5 separate regions of the Homo sapiens genome follow, and regions 1, 2, 3 and 4 are each reported to be linked to region 5. The links are microRNA targets in miRTarBase. Many come from high-throughput screens and were not tested one by one. Region 5 holds a microRNA gene; each other region holds the end of a gene's coding sequence.

Region 1 (4,113 bases), not on the chromosome of region 5:
CCACAAAACCCCCTCCTGTTAGACTAGTCTTCAAAAGGTCTCTTTTTCCAGATGTACCTTCCAGGATACTACTCCCTTATCTACAAGCAATCCAAATGACTAAGGGATAATTTCCAAACACTTCTGCTTGTTAACCCCTCCTCTCCAGTGCTGAAAAACTCAAGACAAGTAAAAGACACATTTTTAATTAACATTTGGAAGATGGCTTTTGTTAGTTAATAGCAATTGTTAACTCTCAAAATAAACAGGAAATAGTGCCACTTAGCAAGTTGTATGTTCCAAACCCAAGAGTAATGGGCCTTAAGAAATCCAAGTACTTTTTCACCTTGCAGTCTCAACAATCCTTCCTGATTCTTAGAAAAAGCACAAATCTCCAGCAGCCAAAGTAAGTGCTATTTGGAGAGGGGGCTTTCCTCTGAGCCCACATGCAGCCAGCTTCTCCAGGTCATCCTTATTGCTGCAGTTCTCTTACATTAACACCATGTTGGGCATGGCAAAAAATGAAGATTGTAGCACATCAACCTTTCTGCTTGAGAAAAAAAATGCATAAATGCATACGTTTTGCATTTCATAATCGGTAAAAGCCTCCTCCTGTATAATCTACTGATAATAACAGTTTATTTGTCCTTAACCCACGAAAACCAATTACAGCCACTGCTGGAGGTAAGCATGGGCAAATCAAGGAGAAAGCAGCTCCAGGAGCACCAACTTGAAAAAAAGATCATCTAGCCAGTTTCATCTGTGAAGAATTCTGTCCACGTTGCCCCTCCCCCTCTTTCAGATTCCAAGACAAAGGGCGTTTTTAAATATGGTAAACTCAGAAAATTCCTAGAAAGCATGTGTTGAGTTGACACATATTCAGCTGATGCCATCATTTTCAGGGTCAGAGGAAATCTGGCCAAGAGACATTTAATGTTCCTCGATAAGGTAGCATTTGACAAGACTCCTCTGAGAACTTATTTTTTTAAAGCTAAGGCAGATTGTGTAGTGTCCAGATACTGTAGGGCCTTTCCAATCTTAGGCATTGGGCATAATAACGACAAAAGTCAAGATTTAGGGTTCAGTTCCAGCTGATTTTATTTCCTTCTCAAAAAAAGTTATTTACAGAAGGTATATATCAACAATCTGACAGGCAGTGAACTTGACATGATTAGCTGGCATGATTTTTTCTTTTTTTTCCCCCAAACATTGTTTTTGTGGCCTTGAATTTTAAGACAAATATTCTACACGGCATATTGCACAGGATGGATGGCAAAAAAAAGTTTAAAAACAAAAACCCTTAACGGAACTGCCTTAAAAAGGCAGACGTCCTAGTGCCTGTCATGTTATATTAAACATACATACACACAATCTTTTTGCTTATTATAATACAGACTTAAATGTACAAAGATGTTTTCCACTTTTTTCAATTTTTAAACACAACAGCTATAAACCTGAACACATATGCTATCATCATGCCATAAGACTAAAACAATTATATTTAGCGACAAGTAGAAAGGATTAAATAGTCAAATACAAGAATGAAAAACGCAGTACATAGTGTCGCGAACTCAAATCGGCATTTAGATAGATCCAGTGGTTTAAACGGCACGTTTTTGCTTATAAAAAAAGTGCAAAAAAGATGTGGTTTACAAGTTAAAGCTACAGAATCCCTTTTTGCTGTAATTGCACCAGTTTTAAAGCCTCTGGACAGAGCAGTATTTCGTTTAAAACTTTGTTTTTCTTAAAAGCTTACAGTGTTTGGCTAATTCTCCTCCCCTTTTTACAAGACGGGGGCCGGAGGGTGGACACTGGTGGCAGGTTAAGGGATACTGTCACTTTAAGAAGCCTGCAGATTGAAGTGTAAACATGGAGAAATTAGGGGCTGATTTTTTAAACTGTGTGAGATATTAACCAGCCGCCCTGTTATAAAATCAGGAAATCCAAACAGCGATTTACACCGATTAACACCCCCTTTATATATTTTTTACAAAAATACACTGAGAAAATAATCAAACGTTTTCATCTCTCTTGTCTTTTTTTGTTTTTTAAAAGTGTCAAAAGTCTACATTTAAATATAAAAAATTAAAAGTTAAAACTCTAGCCCTTCAGTGAAGGAGACGTAAAATGGCGTGGGTAACAACAACTACCAAAAAAAAAAAAAAAAAAAGAAAAAAAAAAGAAAAAAAGGAAAAGGAAGGAATAAAGAAATAAAGGAAGTAAAAAGAAAGGAAAGAAAAAAAGGGACAAAAGAAAAAATATGTTTGGCCAGTATAAATACGTCCACATATAAAATGGCATCTGATTACATTTACAAGGAAAAAGAAATACGAGGATGGAGCATCGGTGAAGGAAAAAAACACGTCTTCTCATTTACACCTATAAGGAATAAACACACACACTGAGAAAAAATTTGGTCCTGAATTGTTTTTTTAAAGTCCAGCACAGATTTGAGTTGCGTTTGAATCCTTTAAAGAGTTAAGAATGAAAAAAAGCTGGTGATAATTTCGTTGTAGGAATCAAACATAGCGCCATCTATCTGCTTTTTATATTATCCTACACTATTTTAAAAACTGCTCAACAGTCTTATACAGAAATCTTTAAAAGATAGACAGGATAACATGCTATATTAACCCCACCATTGAAATAATCCAACACCATCACGATTCCGATTAAGAGAAGAAAAAAATCTTTTTTTTTTCTTTTTTTTTCTTTTTTTCTTTTTTTTTTTCCGAAACCACTCGCCCTCCACTGACTGCCCCTGTACCACATCAAACAGTCTCCTCTCCTCCACGCCTCCGGGGTCTGGGAAGTCTCACCTCACTGATTTCACGTAGAAAAGAAGGCGGAGGCCCAGCAGCCGCCGCCGCCAGCTCCCCAACGTGCAAATCCATTTCAGTTTGACCGTGAACCCCCTTCCAGTTCGTGTCCTCCTCCGCCCCCGCCCCTAGCTCCCGCTGCTGCGCTTCCAACGGGGTTCTCGGGTCATTTCCTAGCGCCGGTCACACTGGCTGGCCTCCTCCCCTCAACATCTCCTCCTCCGGCTGCAGAGGGGGCAAGGGGAAAAGAGGGAGGAAAAAAAAGCCCCAAACGGGAATTCGCCTGCGTGGAGTCTCTCAGTCCCGGCGTTCCCCCAAAACATCTGCCATCGGCCAAATTCGTCACCCCGGAGCCTTCTGTCTTCATCACGCGTTTAAAAAAAGGGGGGGAGGGGTGCGCTGGGTTCTCCCCTCCTTTCTTGACCAAGAAGCAAAATAAAACAAAACCAAGGTGGTGATGCAGGAAGGGGGAGACTCCTTCAAGTCTCTAGAAAACTAACTCGCCTTCTTGCTGGGGGTGCAGACAAGTCCGGAAGCTCGTTGGAAGGGGGAGGGGGTCTCTTCAAGCAAAGGGGAGCAAACTCGAAGTCGCTTTTTTTTTTTTGCCATCAACAACAACATCAATAACAACAATCACAGGTCGCCCCTGTCTACCCTCTTCCTCCTCCGCGTCCCTCCGGCTGGGCAGAGTGGGTCCCCGGCCCGGGAAGGTGGGGGATGGGAGCGCGGGTCCAAAACGCCGCCGCGCTCCTTGATCCGACGACGAGAACGCGGGCGAAGCCAGCCCTGCTTACTTTTTCTTTCTTTTTTCCCTTTTCTCTTTAAACTCTTCGTCTGTCCTTTTCGTTTCTTTTTTTCACTTTTTTTTTCTCCTCTCCTACCCCCCCCGGCCCTTCTCCCTGCCTGCGCGCCCTTCAGTAGGTGAAAACCAGGTTGGAGATGCTGGACTCGAGCCAGTCTCCCGAGATCATCTCGCTCACCTCGGGCGTGCAGTAGTCCGGGAACTCGAAGTGCGAGCCGGAGCCGGGCTCGAAGTTAAAATCCAGGTCCCGGTCGAGCGCCGACGACGAACTGAAGCTGCCCAGGGACATGCTCTCAAAGTTTGAGCTGGGGTTCAGGTCGAGCAGGTCGTCTTCGAACTCGTCGTCGGAGGACGAGGAGCCCGAGGAGGAGGAAGAGGAGGAGTGGGACGAGGCCGAGGAGGACGCGTGCGAGGGCGCGCTGGACGGGGCGGGCGAGGCGGCGCGCAGGCTGGCGTAGCCGCGGTGGTCGGCGGGCGAGCGGCCGGCGGCGGGGGACGAGGCGGCGCTGCTGC
Region 2 (4,113 bases), not on the chromosome of region 5:
GAATGCAGTGGCACGATCTTAGCTCACCACAACCTGCGCCTCCCTGGCTCAAGCAATCTTCCCGGCTTAGCCTCCCAAGCAGCTGGGACTATAGGCACACACCACCATGCCTGGCTAATTTTTGTATGTTTTGTAGAGACGGGTTTCGCCATGTTGACCAGGCTGGTCTTGAACTCCTGGGCTCAAGTGATCTGCCCACATCACTCTCCCAAAGTGTTGGGATTACAGGCGTGAGCCACCATGCCTGGCCTGAATCTTAAATATACATATTCATCTAGCAAATAATATATGTTAAAAAACAGGGTATGGTTGACTAAGGACGTTGGCCCAGATATACAAAAAAATTCAAAACTACCATTTAGGCATTAATTAAGGAAGATTCATGTTGCCTATACAAATTTACTAAGAAATCTTAGTACTGAGATTTGAATTAACAGATCTGTAGTTTGCTACATAAATTCATTTTCTACCTTTTTTATAGATTCAAAAGAGCAAGTGGAATCTCTAAGAATGGCTTCCAGCCACTGGAATGAAACCACTACCTCTGTTTATCAGTACCTTGGTTTTCAAGTTCAAAAAATTTACCCTTTCCATGACAACTGGAACACTGCCTGCTTTGTCATCCTGCTTTTATTTATATTTACAGTGGTATCTTTAGTGGTGCTGGCTTTCCTTTATGAAGTGCTTGACTGCTGCTGCTGTGTAAAAAACAAAACCGTGAAAGACTTGAAAAGTGAACCCAACCCTCTTAGAAGTATGATGGACAACATCAGAAAACGTGAAACTGAAGTGGTCTAACACTCTATAGAAGATGAACAAAATCTCTGAAAGCAGCTCAACCTCTTCTGAGAAAAAAAATATATTCTGAGGCCAACTGTTGCTACAAAACAAATTCTGACTGAATGGTTAAAACATTTCTAGTAGAAGGGGAAAAAAAAGTTAAACATGCACTGTTTGTGTGTATAGCCATTTCATTAAATATACAGTAAAACTTCATGAATGTGAATTTACTAATCTGTTTAATACTGACACTTCAAAAACTGGATAAAAGATTCCTAGAGTTCAATATTAAGCAGCAAAAGATAAGCTGGAAAAGACAAGCAAGGCTAATGATGCTAAAATGATTTTATAACTAACCAATTCATGTAGACAAAAAATAGTGTGTTGGTAACAAAAAGGCTATTTAAAACATGTTTCTAAGTCTGAAGTAAAATACTTCCACTTATATATATAAAGTTCCTATTTATTAAAAAGTAGTATTTTCTAATTTACTGAAAACAACTTATATAAATATATAATGACTTGAGTTTTATGTAGGATTAGTATGAAAAAGTCTCAAAATAATCAAAAATGCCACAAGTATATTTGCACAAAATTCTCACAAAACTGACTTACTGTTTAGTTAGAAATGCATGATATAGGAAAGGCCTAGTCTATTTTCAAACTAAAACTTACTACTACACCCCTTCATTTCCTGAGTTTGTTCTTTCATTTTACCTCTCTTATTTATACTCTCAAAGGCTAAGATAACCAAGGCAGAAAGACTGCCCCTCCCCCCATCCCCCCAAAAAAGGTCAAAAGATAGGGCCACTCAACACCTGTTGAAATATGGCAGTTTTATTTCTTGGAATTCCAAGGGCTATATAGATATTTTGTGACCCTAACACTATTTTGCTATCACCCATGAGCAAACAAAAGCATGCTCTTAACCACCACACTACCCCTAAGTCAGAAATGCCACTCCTGGAAATGTATCCTAAGCACTTAGTTCAAATGTACAAGCTCAAGGTACAAAGATTTTTTACAATGGCATTACTCAAAATAACAAAAAATTGAAAATAACTAAGACTTTAACTAAATGTGGCACATCAACTTAATGAATTATTAAAAAGCAACTGAAGGCCAGGCACAGTGGCTCATGCCTGTCATCCCAGCACTTTGGGAGGCCAAGGCGGATGGATCACAAGGTCAGGAGCTCAAGACGAGCCTGGCCAAGATGGTGAAACCCCGTCTATACTAAAAATACAAAAGTTAGCCGGGCATGGTGGTGGGCACCTATAATCCCAGCTACTCGGGAGGCTGAGGCAGGAGAACTGCTTGAACCCAGGAGGCAGAGGTTGCAGTGAGCCGAGATGATGCCAATGCACTCTAGCCTGGGTGACAGAGCAAGACTCCGTCTCAAAAAAAAAAAAAAAAAAAAAAAAAAGCAACCGAAAAGTCTGGCAAGATAGACAAGTATTTAAAAGTAAAAAATAAATTCACCATATAAAAGTTTTAATACAATTATTGATATTATAAATATACACATGAGTAAGGTTTGAAAACAAATATGGAGAATTAGAATAGCTGGTATATTAAGAGGGCTGTGGGGACAAAAAAAAGCACTAGGTATTATAAAAGACTTTTTTTAAATCTCTATTACTGATGGAATTTTTTGTGTGCAATAAATAACTGTGTGGTGAAGAGAGGAAATCTGTTCTTTTCAATTTAAAGAATATCGGCTGGGCGCGGTGGCTCACGCCTGCAATCCTAGCAGTTTGCAAGGCCGAGGCAGGTGGATCACCTGAGGTCAGGAGTTCGAGACCAGCCTGGTTGACATGGTGAAACCCCATCTCTACTAAAAATACAAAAAAATTAGCCAGACATGGGAATGGGGCCCCTGTAATCCCAGCTACTTGGGAGGCTGAGGCAGAATCACTTGAACCTGGGAGGCAGAGGTTGCAGTGAGCTGAGATCATGCCATCGCACTCCAGCCTGAACAACAAGAGTGAAACTCCGTCTCAAACAAACAAAAGAATCTTAACTGCCGGTCTGAAATAACTCTTCCACAAAGTATTTTTTATATTTATTCTCACATTAGAAACAAACACAAATAATATAACCAACTTTAAAAGGATTTGTGAAGCTTGGATATATAAAATACTTTGGAAACCAGGAACTGAGCACTGTTAAAACCATATACATTTTCACAAACGTTGGATTCTTGGCAATAGATGGTAAGTATACAAGTCCTTTAATAATCAGATTTTTTAATAGTGTACATTACCAACTTTCTCCCCCACCCTATCCTGTAATTATTTAGTCATCCAACAAATATTTACTGAGTGCTTACTACATGTCAGCAATTAGGCCAGATACTGAGGGCAGAGTGGCAAACAAGGAACCACGTCACTACAATGGAGCACATTGGAAGCTCTGTCAAAAAGAGTAGTGATATGGGAACTCAAAGGTTATACAGTGAATTCACACTGAAGAATGAGAATAATATGACTTTTAAGCTGAAACTTAAAAGAACAGGACAGAACCAAAAGAGGGTAGGAGGTAAGAAAGAATATTCCAGGAAGAAGAAATAATACGAATAAAAGCCAAGAGGCAAGAGAGAATAAAGCATGTTGGAGGAGCTACAAGTCAGTATCACTAGGACAGAGTACAAGGAGAACAGTATGATACCACACCTAAGAGATAATTAGAGGCCAGATGAGGCAGGCACGCAGGCTGCAGTAAAACATGGACTTTATCTGAAAAACAGTAACAATCAGCTTGAGCTGAAAGCAACATGATCTAATGAGAAAAATCACAGCTGTATGAAGAATGAACACTAAAGCAGCTAAACCAGGAGACCTGGTCAACAGCTAACCTAGCAATCCAATGACCGTGGCCTGAACTAGAGTGGCATGGTAGCCTTTAGTTGTTACACCCAATATTTCCAGCTCTCTTCATTAAGGAAAGCATTCACTTCAGAGCCCCCTATGGCTGGGAACATAACTTTGGCCAATGAGTGACTTGTGACTAACTCTGGCCAATGAGCTGTGAGAGGATGTGACATGTGTCACCTTCAGGCCACAGCACTTAACTGCTAGTGCAAGCTCTTCCAGAGTTAGTTTTCCTGCTAGCACAGAACTCACAAACATTTGAGCTTCCAGCTGCTCTGCCAGCCTGGGTCCTTGAGTGACTATAACTAGCTAAGACTTCTACCAATCCATGATAAACATGTAGTATGAAGGAGAAACAAGCTTCTGTTGTTTTAAGAAACTGAGATTTTTGGGATTGTTACCACAACACAGTTTATCCTACCCTGACTGTTAGGGAAAACCCTGGCCAACCAAAGAGAAG
Region 3 (4,113 bases), not on the chromosome of region 5:
GGCCACGCCAGGTCCACGAGGCCCCAATGGAGGAGCCAGGGATGTTCAGCCAGGACAGGAGGCAGCTGGCGGGGAGAGGGCGCTGGGCTGCAGGGTTTGGACCCTGGAAGGGCCCCCAAGTAGGAGGGAGCAGACCCCAGTTCCGTGAAAGAAGCATGTTGTAAGAAGCTGAGTCCTGCACCAGCTCCAGGGGAGTCTTTGTCACGAGATATTGTGTAACCTTCTCCTGCTTCAGCACAACCCATAGCTCCCTATTGCTCACCAGAGAACTCAGGCTCCTCACTCAGCATTCGAGCCCCTGCTCACCTCCACTTTGTGTCTCCCTTCTACTGCCGCCCTCCGTGGGTCTCCCTCCTCCAGCTTTCACGTTCACCTTTCCAGCTCCCTGGTATGCCCTTCCTGCCTTGGCCACCCAGCAAACTCCTACACATCCTTCAAGACCCAGTGCTTATGTCCCCTTCTCCAGGAAACATTGCCCTTCCCCAGCCCACAGTACCCCATTTGCTGTGTGACCCTGAGAAGATTCCTCCAGCTGTGGAATGGGGGTAAAAATCATCCTCCCTAAAAGCATATTTTGGGGATCCCAAGGCAACAGATTTATACTAAATGCCCTTAAAGTGAGTTAGGCTTTGCGGGGGCTGGCTCGGAGGGCTTACAGTCAGTCAACGCTCAATGTGTGTTCATTTTTATCTCCCTCCTCTTGGATTCTGTGGTTTGAAGACTCTTGTTTTAAACATTTTACTGTTCCAAGATTTTTTCCCCATCATGGTGCTAGGAATTTTAAGAACCCCTGGTTCTAAAATTATAAAAGTCTAAAATGCCGTGGGCGGGACCAAGGGCCTGTTTGTGCCCTGAGCTGACCCAGGGTGGCTGCAGCTGGGGGTCTCTTCGAGGGGGTCCCCTGCCCCTCACTCCTCCCAGACTGAGGGGGTGTGGTCTGGCAGCCCCAATTTGGTTGGGGGGTAGACAATGGATTTACCAGGAGGCGGACGGTAGCCCAGGTTCCAGGAGGGAGGGGGTGGGATTCCTGGCTTGAGGGCTGCAGTTGGGGGAGACAGGCAGTGTCAAGAGGCACAAGGCTGTTGACTCAGGTTGATGGCGTCCTTCTCTTGGAGCCTCAGTTTCCTCATCTGGAAATTGTGGCCAAACGCTGCCCTCTTGCAGAGTTATCAGCAGGGATGGGGAGGAGCTGGACTCTAGCCCCGTGCCCTGCCCAGCTTTTGCTTCAGCCATGTCCTCCTCCTGAGATGCCCTTCCTGGCCCAGGCGTGGTGACTGGGGAGGGGGCTTCTGGAGGATGCCCGTCCACCCCTGCCCCACCCTAGGGAAGGGGACAGGGCTGGGCCAGCTGCCCGCTCCATGCCTGGCTGGCCGCCCTAGCCTGGCAGCGTCGGAGGCCCCAACACTTTCTCAATGAAAGGTATTTGGCCGTGGAGCCTGACACCTCATCACCCTCCGCCTGGAAAGCTGCAGCCAGCTTTGCCCGCTTCAAGTGGGAGCGCCCCCATTCCCACCCCTCCCCAGGACCCCCACCAGGCAGCCCTGAGCAGGGTTCTGTGGCAGGCAGGCCGGGAACCTAGGTTGCCTTGGGAGGGGCCTGTGCCTCTGAGCCTATCAGCTGGGGGTATAGAGACAGTAAGTTCTGGATAAATGTGTGTTCTCCCAAGCCCTGCCAGCTCCCTCAGGGACCTCTCGCCTCTCTTGCCTGTCACAGCCTATCGAGGGTGAGGCTGGGGTGCCAATGTCTGGGGCTGCCCAAACCCAAACTCCAGCAGAGCCCTTAGGGCCCACCTTCAGAGACCAGGGGTGACGCCTCGCATCTTGGGCTTCTCCCATGCCTCCAGGCCCCCAAGTCCACCCTAGGGCAAAGGAAGTGTTTCCCTGACTGAAAGGGTGAGAGCTGCGGAGGTTCGGATTTGCCAAGACCTCAGCCGAAGGGGGGATGTGGCCAGTGGACAAGAGCCAGGGACCCTCTGGGTGGAGCACTGGCCCAGGGCATATTGGGGTATGCACGTGTGAGCCTGTCTCCCCCTAGAGAGATAGGCTCTCTCAGGTCCCCTGAAGTTGCTAGTGCAGAGCTCACACCTCTAAATGCTGGATGGGTGAATGATGAGATCGGGGGTCTGGAGAGGGGAGCCAGTGAATGGGTGGGAGATTGAAGAGGAAGTGGGTGGTTGCCCCCTAAGCTAAGGGACGCTCCATACCCCCACTCCCTAGGGGGTGTCAGCCAGGGACAAGTCTCCCATCCCAGGTGCCCTGGAGGCCACTCCAGTCTTGCCACATTGATGCCTTCATCCCCAGACCCTGGGGAATCACACACCTAGAGCTATAGGGGGCTCAAACCTGCTGGGATTCATGCCAGACCCCAGGACTTCAGTTTTTCTGTCTGGACAGTGGGGGTGTGGTCAGGACAGCGCCGGCCCTGTGGAGCGCCAGGAGGACACACGTGCACACAGACTGCCAGCCAGCCGTGATTCTGCCGCCTCCAGACCCAGGGTCCTGGCAAGGTCAGAAAGCCCTGGCCTCGGGCAGCCCCGTCGCCACATGACCGAGGTGTGGCCGGGGTTCAGGTGGGTGGGGCCCAGGGTGGGGCTGCTGTGGACTCGACTGAGGAGGTCCAGGGTGGCCTGGCTTGCTGTTGCCTGCCCCAGAGGCTCCCCTGCCAGGGCCCCTCCCTGCCTGCTGTAGCCCCGGGGCATACGGCCAGGCACAGCCAAGGAGTCCAGGCCAGAGCAGCAGGCTGCCACTGTGTTCAGCGGTCACAGCCGCCCGTGCTTCTTGCCCCCGGCACCCGCGTGTGCCTCCGCGTGTTTCTGCCTGAAAGGTGTATCTGGGCCGGGCAGCCCCAGCCTCCATCCTTCCTCCCTAGAGCCTGACACCATGAGTTGGAAATAAAGCATTTTTAATTCAGCCCCCGGAGGGCCTGCCCAACGCCCCGGGCAGGTCTCTAAGCACCAAACACGTGAGAATTGTTCCCCTCAGCCCCAGAGCCTCCCCCGCATGGGAACCCCTTCCTCCTTTTCACTGGGCCCAGCCTGGACCCCACACCCCCACTCACACCCACAACCAGCTCCCCACACTTTGTTTCAATAAATAACCCCAAAAACAAAGCTCGGGGCAGGGGACCTGGTCTAGCACTGAGCTCCAAACAGGCAGAGGGGACTTTGTGCCAAACGCCAGAACTCCCAAGGGTAGAAGATTGAAATCAGGGTCAAAATACGCACGAGAAGTCAGAGACGGCTTCTGAGCTGGGAGCGGGTCCCTTCAGGCTAGGGTTGAACGTCGTCCCCTGGGTGCTGGCCCCAGAGTCACCGCAAACTCCATTCCATACCACACAGCAACAATTGTCTTCCTGGTGTTTCTACCATCGGATGCTCTGGGTTCTTGTCTGACTCTGAGTTCTGGAAAGGGGCGGGAAAGGGGACCCAGACACCTGGGGAGGGGGCTGTCTGGAGAAGAAGGAGGGGCAAAACTTCCTGGGGTCAAAGGAGTCTGGAGGGAGGTGGGAAAGCGAGGCCCCTGCCCAGGTCACTGCCGGACCCTACCCCGGCGGGTGCGGAGGGGACCTGAGGCCCGGGCCTGTGCCTGCGCCGCCTCGCTCATCTCCCTGCGGATGTCACCAAGTGCTGTCGCCGGGGACTCCAGCAGCCTCTGGAAGAGGCTGGGTCGTCCGGCCGGTGGCTCCCGGCACTGGAAGGTGACGGCTGTGCCGGCATCAGCCTTCATCTCTCTGGAGAAGCCGTCAGAGGAACCATCAAAGCAGCGGCCAATGGCGATCTCCTTGGCCAAGCGTGGGCTCTGGTCAGTGACAGTGTAGACGCCATAGTTGTGGCCCAGAGGGTCTAGGGGGGCCAGCATGGAGAAGGCAGCTGGGTCCTCCGCGGGCACCGGTGGGGGGTGCCGGGTCAGGTAATCCCGAAGGAGTCCGTTGACGGCCACGCGCCGGCAGCTGCCCTGGGGCATAATGGTCACCAGCGTCCTGTCCACCTGCCGCTGGTCGAACAGCATCCCGCTGCACTTGAACTCCACGCAGGCTGCCGAGGTGCCCGGACGCTCGGGGTCTCGCACACTCCGGGCATCCCGAAGTCCGTAGAGCTGGCCGCGGGTGCGTGGG
Region 4 (4,113 bases), not on the chromosome of region 5:
GGCTCAGGTGGGGGCTTGGCTGCGGCTCTTCTGGCTGGGGTTTTTCTGAGGAACGTTTATGTAACTGCAGCACTAGGAACTCCCGGCAGGGCAGGAAGGAAGTGGGGAAGACCACAGGTTTCTGGAAAGCCGCAGGAGCTGCAGCTGTTCCCCCGCTGCCTCTTGTGTGACTACTTCTGCTGGGCCCCCCTCTCCTTGACAGGCCCGGGCAGAGCCACGCAGCGGTGCTATGGATGGAGTACCACCTGACCCCGGAGTGCACGCTCAGCACTGGCCTCCTGGAGCCTGCAGACCCCGAGGTAGTGCCTGCGCACCGGGCCCAGTGTGCGTGCAGACCCTGAGAGCAGGCGCCGCCTGGGGAGGCCTCCCTGCCCCCATGCTCTGGGTGTTTCTGTCACAAGTTCTTCGGGCCAGATGATGACCCCTCAGTGGTCCTGGGCCATCTGGCCCCTGAGCAGCTTCTCTCTGCTGCGAGCTGCCTGGGCTGGAGGCTGGCTAGGAAGGAGGCTCAGGTGCCAGGGAGCCCTCACCATCTTCCTGCTCTTCTTCCTACAGGGGGGCTGCTGCTGGAACCCCCACTGCAAGCAGGCCGTCTACTTCTTCAGCCCTGCCCCAGATCCCAGAGCACTGCTGGGTGGCCCACGGACTGTCAGCTATGCAGTGGAGTTTCACCCCGACACAGGCGACATCATCATGGAGTTCAGGCATGCAGATACCCCAGACTGACCACTCTTGAGCAATAAAGTGGCCTGAGGGCTGGGGTTCTGAGTGGCTCATGGCTTTCTAGCGGGGAAGGCTGAAGGCCCTCCTCTCCTCTCTGGGAGCTGCTCGGCCTCAGGGATGGGAAAGACTGCGCCGTGTTGCATCTTGTTGCATCTTTGCACTGCTGGCCTCTGGCTCCAGCTGTGGCAGGAAGCATGAGAGGGTGACTGAATTTGGAGCCCTGGAGGGGCTGGGAAGACCCCCCTGCTTGTGCTTCTGAGGTGCTGAGAATGCTCCAACACAGAGACATCTCTCCCCAGCTGGGAAGGGAGTGGAAGCACAGGGAGCTTGTGGGGCTGGCCGGTGGGGTTGTCCACGCCGCCCTTGGCGAGCAGTCCCCGTGGCGGGAGCCTGTCCTGTCTGTCTCACTCTCGAGGATCTCCGGGTCCCTGCTCTTCTGGCTTCTGCTAGGAGGGTGGAGATGCTGAGTTGTGGCTGGGTCTCTGGGGCTTGAAGACCCTGGCTGGGCCCGGGCTGAGAGGCCTGGGTTCTGGCCCTTTCACCTGACAGGTAACTTCAAGCCACATCCATAGGTGTCTGGCCTCAGTGCTGCACCAGCTGGTGGCCTGCCAGGACCTGAGACTGGACACAAGGCAGCTGTCCCAGAGCAGTTCCTGAGATGCAGGCCCAGGAAAGTGGCTGTCAGGGGAGCTGGGAGGCAGCCCTGTTCCCTGCACCTCCCTCAGATTGGAAAGCCCCTCCTGCAGGTGGGGTATGGCAGGGAGCAGCCCCTGCCCAGCGCCGCTTCACCAGGAAGGTCAGTAGGTGCCGTGGCCTTGCTTCTCTCACACACTAACCCCCCTTTGGTTATGTCCCAGCTCTCAGAGGTAACAGCAGACACCACGTGAGAGAACCCAGTGGCCTCTGGCTCGCAGCTTAGAAGGTGAGGCTTGTGCCAGGCCAGCCGAGCCGCCTGTATGAGCAGAGTTCCGGTGTCCTCGGATTCAGGGCAGACTTGGGCAGTGCCTGTCCTGCAGTTGGGGGCAGGAACTCCCTCCCCTGCCCCCAGGCGTGCCCCTGAGGCCTGGCCCCAGCTTGTCGCTGAAATAAGTGGAGAACACCAGCCTTGAGCCTCACAGTTTTATTTTCTCCTCGTTATCCATCCTTCCTTTCAGCACCAGTAAGGAAAAAGAACACCTCTCTTCGCAAAATATTTTATCAGGTGTAAAGACTTGTTTTTCTTCTAGGGAAGAACCGTCTGGATATATATTTGATAATGTTTTTACCAAAACCATAGGTGTGCTTACCATAGAAAACCCCTAATGTCCCATGAAGATACAATACAGAAAAAAATACAGAAATTAAAAAAGTTTTTATAACAGTATTTCTAAATCTCAGCAAGTTAAAAAGCAATAGTTAAAAAGCATCAAGATTAATATACTTAAAACTTAAGGTGGTTTTGGACAAATGAAAATGAACATTTCCTTCCTCAGTGGCCCCCGCGCCTTGTGGCTTCCTTTGAGACTGGGCCTAGGGCAGGAACAGAGTCTTGGTATGGGCCTCGGGTGACCCGTGTGCCCACCCCTGCTAGGCCTTAGATGCCACAGAATCTGAGATCCAGCAATGGTTCACTTTAAAAAATCAGTGGAAGGGCCTGGCCTGCACACAAGGCCCGGGAGTCCATAGGCAGCCACAATGAGACACGTGGGTGGGGGGGTCCCGGTCTTGGTGCTGAGGGAGGTGTGCGGGGGCCTGGGGGCCGCACATCCTTACTCTGGACCCCAGGACCTGACTAGGCAGAGGCGACCTTGTGATGACAGAAAATGACTTGCCTAAGGCCGCCTGTGAGGTGGGAGGGGAGGAGCATGCAGCCCTGACTCCCACGCCTGCTGCCCCGGGAGGGGGTGCCTGGGTGGGGAAGCTATGTTGGGGTCTGGTGTGGGGGCCCTGCCCGGGCCTCAACTGCTCTCCCTGTGCAGGCAGTCGGCAGGCGGCTCGGGGTCTAGGGGTCCAGGGCCGGCCGGCCCAGTCGCTTGTGTGAGCAGAGTACCAGCTGCTTCTGGAAGTTGGGGGCCTCCACATCATGAATCCCAGTCAAGGCTCACAGGCCAGCCCCTTGGAGGGGTGGGCCGGGCAGAGAGCCCAGCAGGATGCTCGCCCTCAGCAGCCCCTTCCTGGCTCTGGACTCTGGAGGGGCAGGGCTTGGGCCCGGGCAGACGGTGCTTCCCAGGCCAGGTGAGTTCAGACAGGCCAGTGTCACAAGGACGCACGTCCTAGCGCCAGGCTCCCTGGGCTCTGCAGCGTTGTCTGCCCCAGCACAGGGCCAGGCATCTGGCTGGCTGCGTGGCCCCCTCTTGGTCCCTCTTGCAGCTCAATGGGTGACAAGGCACAGCATCAGGGCACCAGCACCAGGAGGGGCTGACAGCAGACAGCAGGTCCTGGTGCTCCCTCCAGCCTCACCAGGCAAAGCCGGCCCTGGGCCAGGCTGGGTGTAGGGCCAGGGCGCCACGAGGAGCGGAGGTCAGCGGGGATTGTCAAAAACAGTCCCTCAAGTTGAGTCTCGAACTTTGAAACAGACAAAACCTTCGCTGCATGACAGGAGCAGCCCTGGAGTCTCTTAAAGGCAGGTGGGCAGAGGCAGTGCTGCCGAAGGGGCCTGGGGGCTGTAGGCATCTTGGGGCTGGAGGCAGATCGGGGACCACAAGCTGTTGGCCAGCTCTGCCATGCTGAACTTGGGTGCCAGTACCACACCCTGCCCTGGGCATGCAGCAACTGTCAGCCTTGCTGCCCCAGCTTGCGCACTGGTGAGGGCCAGGCTGCTCTCTGCACCTTGGCTTCCTGCCTCCTAGGCCGGGGTCCCCTTGTGGCCTTGGTGTTGGCTGGGGTAGCTGTTGAGGATGGGCCTGGGAGGCCAGAGCCGCAGCCCCACCCGGGGGGCAGGCAGGGGTTCCTGAGCTCAGCCGGCACGCAGGTGGGGCACGTCCCCAGGGAGGGATTGGTCCCGAACCAGAGAGGTGTCCCGTGGGGGAGAGGATTGGCAGAAAGAAGAGGATGTGTTGGTTTTGATAGAAGAGAAGCTACAAATAGATTATTTTCAAAATCAGGATCCCCCCCACCCCCGTTTATGCTGTGAGTCCCTTCTTCCTGTAAAAAAAAAAGTGGATACTCTCTTCTCGGATCCCCGTTTATGGCTCCACTGCCCAGATGGGAGGCTCCCGGAGGAGGCCCAGGGTGCCAGAGCCTGCCAGACTCTGTTGTGCCTGAGCTGGGGAAGGGACCCTGTCTCGGGAAGAGCAAAGTTCTATGAGTGACTTACAGACCCTGTGAAGTGAGGGTTGGTTTTGTGATTAACCTTTTTCTGTTTTTCTTTTTAAAATGTAATTGCCCTTGAATGCGAGACCCTGGGAAGAG
Region 5 (4,113 bases):
GGTAGCGTGCTGGGAGGAGGGAGGGAGGTGAGAGGTTGGTATCTCAGGGCCACAGGAAGAGAAGGGCCCGCTGTGAAGGATGTGGAATGGATGAGGGCTCCTTGCTCCAGGGCCAGCCCAGGGCAGGGAAGCAGGTCATGAGACCATGTGGCTGATGGAAGCTGGGCAGTGGGTAGTGGAGCAGGCAGCACCCTGACCCAGGGCCCCACTCCTGCTGTCAAGGGGCAGGCGGGCGCTGGGCAGGCAGCAGGCTGGGTGGCAAAACGGGCGGGGGCGGAGGGGCCGGTGTTGGGCTTACATCTCCTGCTTCCCTGAGCGCCTGCACGGCAGCTTGCCCTTCTTATAGAGGAAATAGAGGACAGCGCCCAGCACCGCCAGGACCAGGATGCACACAATCACAGCCACGATGACCACGCCCCGGCTCTCCGGCTCCGGCAGCTTTCTCTCTGCGCCACAAAGACACTCCTCGTCACTCCCTGCCCCAGGCCACTTCGTCACCATCGTTGGCCCAGCCAGTCCAGGGCCGACAAGATGGGGCTGCTACTCACCTTTCTGGACAGGGCTCTCTGGGGAGGGACAGGGCAGAAAGGATGCCCTGGCACAGCCCTGTTCTCTTGCCAGGCCTGGCTTACCTGTGGAGGTGCTGTTGGCTCTGGTATGAGGACTGGCAGTGGAAGTGCTGAGGCCAGTGGTTGTGTTGGAGTCTGGTGTGAGGGTGGTTAAATTGACTAGGAGGCAGAGGGAGGGGTGTTAGGAGAAGCGCAAGTTACTGCCCGTGCCTGGGCCTGCCCCTGCCATCCCCTGCAGGGATGCAGCCCTCACCCAGCTCCAGGAAGAGGATGCTGGTGTTTTTGCCCAGGTCGTTGGAGGCCGTGCATTCAACACCTGTCTCCAACAGCTCCGGGGTCACGAGGACATTCAGGGTGCTCAGGACTCGCTGTGGATCTTGGTCTTGTTCACTTGCCTGCGAGGAAAGGAAGGAGGCAGCTCAGGGGATGGGGAGGATCTCTGGTCCTGGCCACAAAGCGCAGGCAGGGATTAGGAGAGTGTGGCAGATGAGACACCCGCTCACCGTGCCGTTGACGTTCCAGGAGATGGTGGGCCGGGGGTGCCCTGACGCTTCACAAGACAGATTCAACACCATATTCTCTTTCACCCACACCTTCCTCTCCTTGAATGCCATCCAAGGGGGGCCTTGGGGAGGTAGGGAGAGGTGAGGTGGCAAGCCCAGCTAGCCTGCCTCCCCCTCCGCACCAGAGCTCCCCAGGGCAGCAGGTGGCTTTTTGTCAAAGAGCTTAAAAACCACCCCACTTGGGGTGACCTGGTCTCTACCCAGAGGGAGGGCCTCACCAAAAATGGCCACGTTGACCAGCTGTGTGCGGTTCAGGCCGGGTATGCTGGGCACAGACGCCACGCAGCGATAGCCGCCTCCTGCCTCCCGTTTCAGGTCATGCAACTGAAGCACAGGCCCCCTTTCCAGCACCTGGCCTGTCTGGGATGAGAGATGGGTCAGAGGGTCTGGGAAAGAGCACATTCTTGTCACCGCCAGCCCCACCCACCCCATCAGCCCCTTGCCCCAGACCCGCCTGGGTACCTCTTCTCTCAGCCACTGGAACTCGAGGTCCTGGCTACTCTCTGCCTCACAGGTCAGGGTGAGGCTGCTGCCTTCCTGTCTCTCAGGGGCTGCGGGACTCACTCGGACGTCAGACACATCTGGGGGTACAGCAATCATGTCACCCAGGGCAGGGTGGGGCCAGTTCCCTATTGCCCCAGCCTGGTCCCCCTGTCCTGGGTCCCCAGCCCCTCACAGTTCACCAGTAGTTCCTGTGGTTCACTCAGCAGCGATATCATGGTGTCCAAGTCCAGGCCCTGACATTCATAGCGCCCACTGTGTTCCTTCCGGGCAGGCTCCAGCACCAGGACCCCGTTGTCGTTGGTTGTCTCTTCCTCTGCCTCCCTGGTGCTGGGGTTCTAGGGAGGATTGGGGAGGTGAGCAGAGTGCACCTCCCGCCACTCCACCTGGGTCTCTGCTTGCATCCCCACCTGCACCCAGCACAAAGCCCCCACACCTGCTTGCTGATGCTGAAGTGTGGTGGAGGGTTGCCATCAGCCAAACACCTGATTTCCACGCGGTCCCCTTCCTTCAGCATTCCCACGGGCTCCACTTCCAGCCACACTTTTTCTGTCGGGTCTGCATAGGCAAAGGGGGTAGCTCTTGGCCCATGAGTCAACCCTGGGCTGGATAAGGGGGAGCCAGCAGGAGTTTCCAGCAGCCCCAGCCCCAGTAAGCAGAGAGTCAGGTTAGTACTCACAGAAAACAGGGACGGTGACTTCCCTGGACTCCTTCATGTGGTTCCCACTGGGCAGCCGGTAGTTGAGCTCACAGTAAAACTGGGCATCTTTGTCTTCTTTAACCAGCTGTGCCTTCAGAATACTCTGCAAGGTGTACAAACCACTCGACTCCACAGTCTGGGACGACTGAATGTGGACCCCTGGGCAGGGAGGAAGGGGAGGAAGACTCAGCCTCAGCCCCACCTCCAGCCCCACCCTAGGGTTGTCCACTGGGGTTGGCAGGGGACCATCTAAATAGCCCCCTGTCCCCTGTAGAAGGCCAGGTACAAATGCAAGCTGGAAACCCTTCAACCCAGCACTTTTACTGCTCAGTGTCAACCCTAGAAAAACATTTTCATGTCTGCTCATATCCAAGGATGTGTGCAAAGAATGCTGCAATGATAAAAACGAGCAGCCGTCTAGATGTCCACTAAATGGGGAATGGTGAACTCGACTACCTGCTATGCGTAGTATGGAAAACTTGGCAGTAAGCAAAACGATCAGTTGATCTAAATAGACTGACCCAGAAACATTGTATAAAAGAAATTGTCTAACAATGTATACCATACACCACCACTTAGACCAGGGTTTCTCAGCACTACTGATAATTTTTTTTTTTTTTTTTTCAGACAGAGTTTCACTCTTGTTGCCCAGGCTGGAGTGCAGTGGTACAATCTCGGCTCACCGCAACCTCCACCTCCCTCCCGGCTTCAAGTGATTCTCCTGCCTCAGCCTCCTGAGTAGCTGGGATTACAGACATGCGCCACCACGCCCGGCTACTTTTGTATTTTCAGTAGAGATGGGGTTTCTCCGTGTTGGACAGGCTGGTCTTGAACTCCCGACCTCAGGTGATCCGCCCACCTTGGCCTCCAAAAGTGCTGGGATTACAGGCGTGAGCCCAGCCAGCACTACTGATGTTTTAGGCCACGTTGATTCTTTATTGTGGGGGCTGTCCTGTGCCCTATAGGATGTTAGCAACATCCTTGGTCTCTCTACCTACTAGATGGCAGTAGCACCCCCTCTATGTGTGACAACCAAAAATATCTCCAGACATTGCCAAGTATCTCCTAGGAGGAGGGGGTACAAAATCACCCCTGGTTAAGAATGACTGATTTAGATAATAAAACACAGAAGCCTATATCATTCTAGAAATATTTCTATATATGAGCAAATACATAGAAATAGGCTTGAAAGAACACACCCTGATAGCAGAGATTATTTCTGGGAGGGGGGGTCTCAGGCAAGAAGAAACTTCTAGATTTTTTGTCAGTTTAAATTCTCATGAAAATATTTTCAAGTACCATTTGTATAATTTTTTTAAGTTAAAAGCTTAATGAAAATATAAGGCAGTTCCTGTGTAGTACCATAGGGACAGCTCTTTTTAAGAGATGGGGTCTCGCTCTGTCACCCAGGCCGGAGTGTGGTGGTGCAATCCTAGCTCACTGCAGCCTTCATTTCCTGGGCTCATATGATCCTCCTGCCTCAGCCTCCCAAGTATCTGGGACCACAGGCACACACCACCATGCCTGGCTAATTTTTTTATTTTCTGTAGAGACAGGGTCACCCTATGTTGTCCAAGGTGGTCCTGAACTCCTCACCTCCAGAGATCCTCCTGCCTTGGCCTCCCAAAGCACCGAGATTACAGGTGTGAGCTACCACACCTGGCCCAAGGGTGGCTTTTGGGAGAAAGGGCTACTCACGGTTCTTCTCCTCCTTCAGAGGCCGGCCATTCTTGTACCAGATGACTTGAGGAATGGGGTACCCGTTCCTCCCTACACAGGT

What was found. The annotated mature microRNA hsa-miR-6756-3p reads UCCCCUUCCUCCCUGCCCAG and lies in region 5 at 2,493-2,512, opposite strand. An mRNA with a match to its seed (bases 2 to 7 or 8) in the 3' UTR can be bound and repressed. Matches are read on the target gene's strand: a 7mer-m8 pairs with bases 2 to 8, a 7mer-A1 pairs with bases 2 to 7 and ends in A, and an 8mer does both.
Region 1: miRTarBase lists SOX4 as a target of hsa-miR-6756-3p. Seed matches in the 3' UTR shown: 7mer-m8 at 2,892-2,898 and 7mer-A1 at 1,755-1,761.
Region 2: miRTarBase lists SMIM18 as a target of hsa-miR-6756-3p. Seed matches in the 3' UTR shown: 8mer at 924-931.
Region 3: the mRNA of CILP2 is a reported target of hsa-miR-6756-3p. Seed matches in the 3' UTR shown: 7mer-m8 at 3,007-3,013.
Region 4: the mRNA of PRMT7 is a reported target of hsa-miR-6756-3p. The part of its 3' UTR that is shown has no 7-base or 8-base seed match.

The regions. Positions count from the first base shown.
Region 1 is chr6:21,595,559-21,599,671 of GRCh38, reverse strand. SOX4 (SRY-box transcription factor 4) reads right to left here. Exons shown (of 1, transcript NM_003107.3): 1 at 1,053-4,113. The coding sequence ends at 3,713. Among named protein-coding and RNA genes, the nearest start is that of SOX4, 3.9 kb to the right of the region's middle. RefSeq lists an enhancer at 3,161-3,360.
Region 2 is chr8:30,644,800-30,648,912 of GRCh38, forward strand. SMIM18 (small integral membrane protein 18) reads left to right here. Exons shown (of 3, transcript NM_001206847.2): 3 at 482-1,265. The coding sequence starts at 511. The coding sequence ends at 798. The region is part of intron 2 of GTF2E2 (general transcription factor IIE subunit 2); the gene reads right to left. Among named protein-coding and RNA genes, the nearest start is that of SMIM18, 8.3 kb to the left of the region's middle.
Region 3 is chr19:19,545,431-19,549,543 of GRCh38, reverse strand. CILP2 (cartilage intermediate layer protein 2) reads right to left here. Exons shown (of 8, transcript NM_153221.2): 8 at 2,885-4,113. The coding sequence ends at 3,528. Among named protein-coding and RNA genes, the nearest start is that of CILP2, 9.2 kb to the right of the region's middle. RefSeq lists an enhancer at 3,479-4,113.
Region 4 is chr16:68,356,499-68,360,611 of GRCh38, forward strand. PRMT7 (protein arginine methyltransferase 7) reads left to right here. Exons shown (of 19, transcript NM_019023.5): 18 at 203-299; 19 at 556-2,086. The coding sequence ends at 726. SMPD3 (sphingomyelin phosphodiesterase 3) reads right to left here. Exons shown (of 9, transcript NM_018667.4): 9 at 1,829-4,113. Among named protein-coding and RNA genes, the nearest start is that of PRMT7, 48 kb to the left of the region's middle. RefSeq lists an enhancer at 94-253.
Region 5 is chr11:119,310,458-119,314,570 of GRCh38, forward strand. It overlaps MIR6756 (microRNA 6756), which reads right to left and starts at 2,555; the gene lies at 2,493-2,555. MCAM (melanoma cell adhesion molecule) reads right to left here. Exons shown (of 16, transcript NM_006500.3): 5 at 4,032-4,113; 6 at 2,313-2,492; 7 at 2,070-2,191; 8 at 1,809-1,971; 9 at 1,595-1,713; 10 at 1,351-1,492; 11 at 1,073-1,194; 12 at 823-964; 13 at 633-728; 14 at 299-446; 15 at 1-9.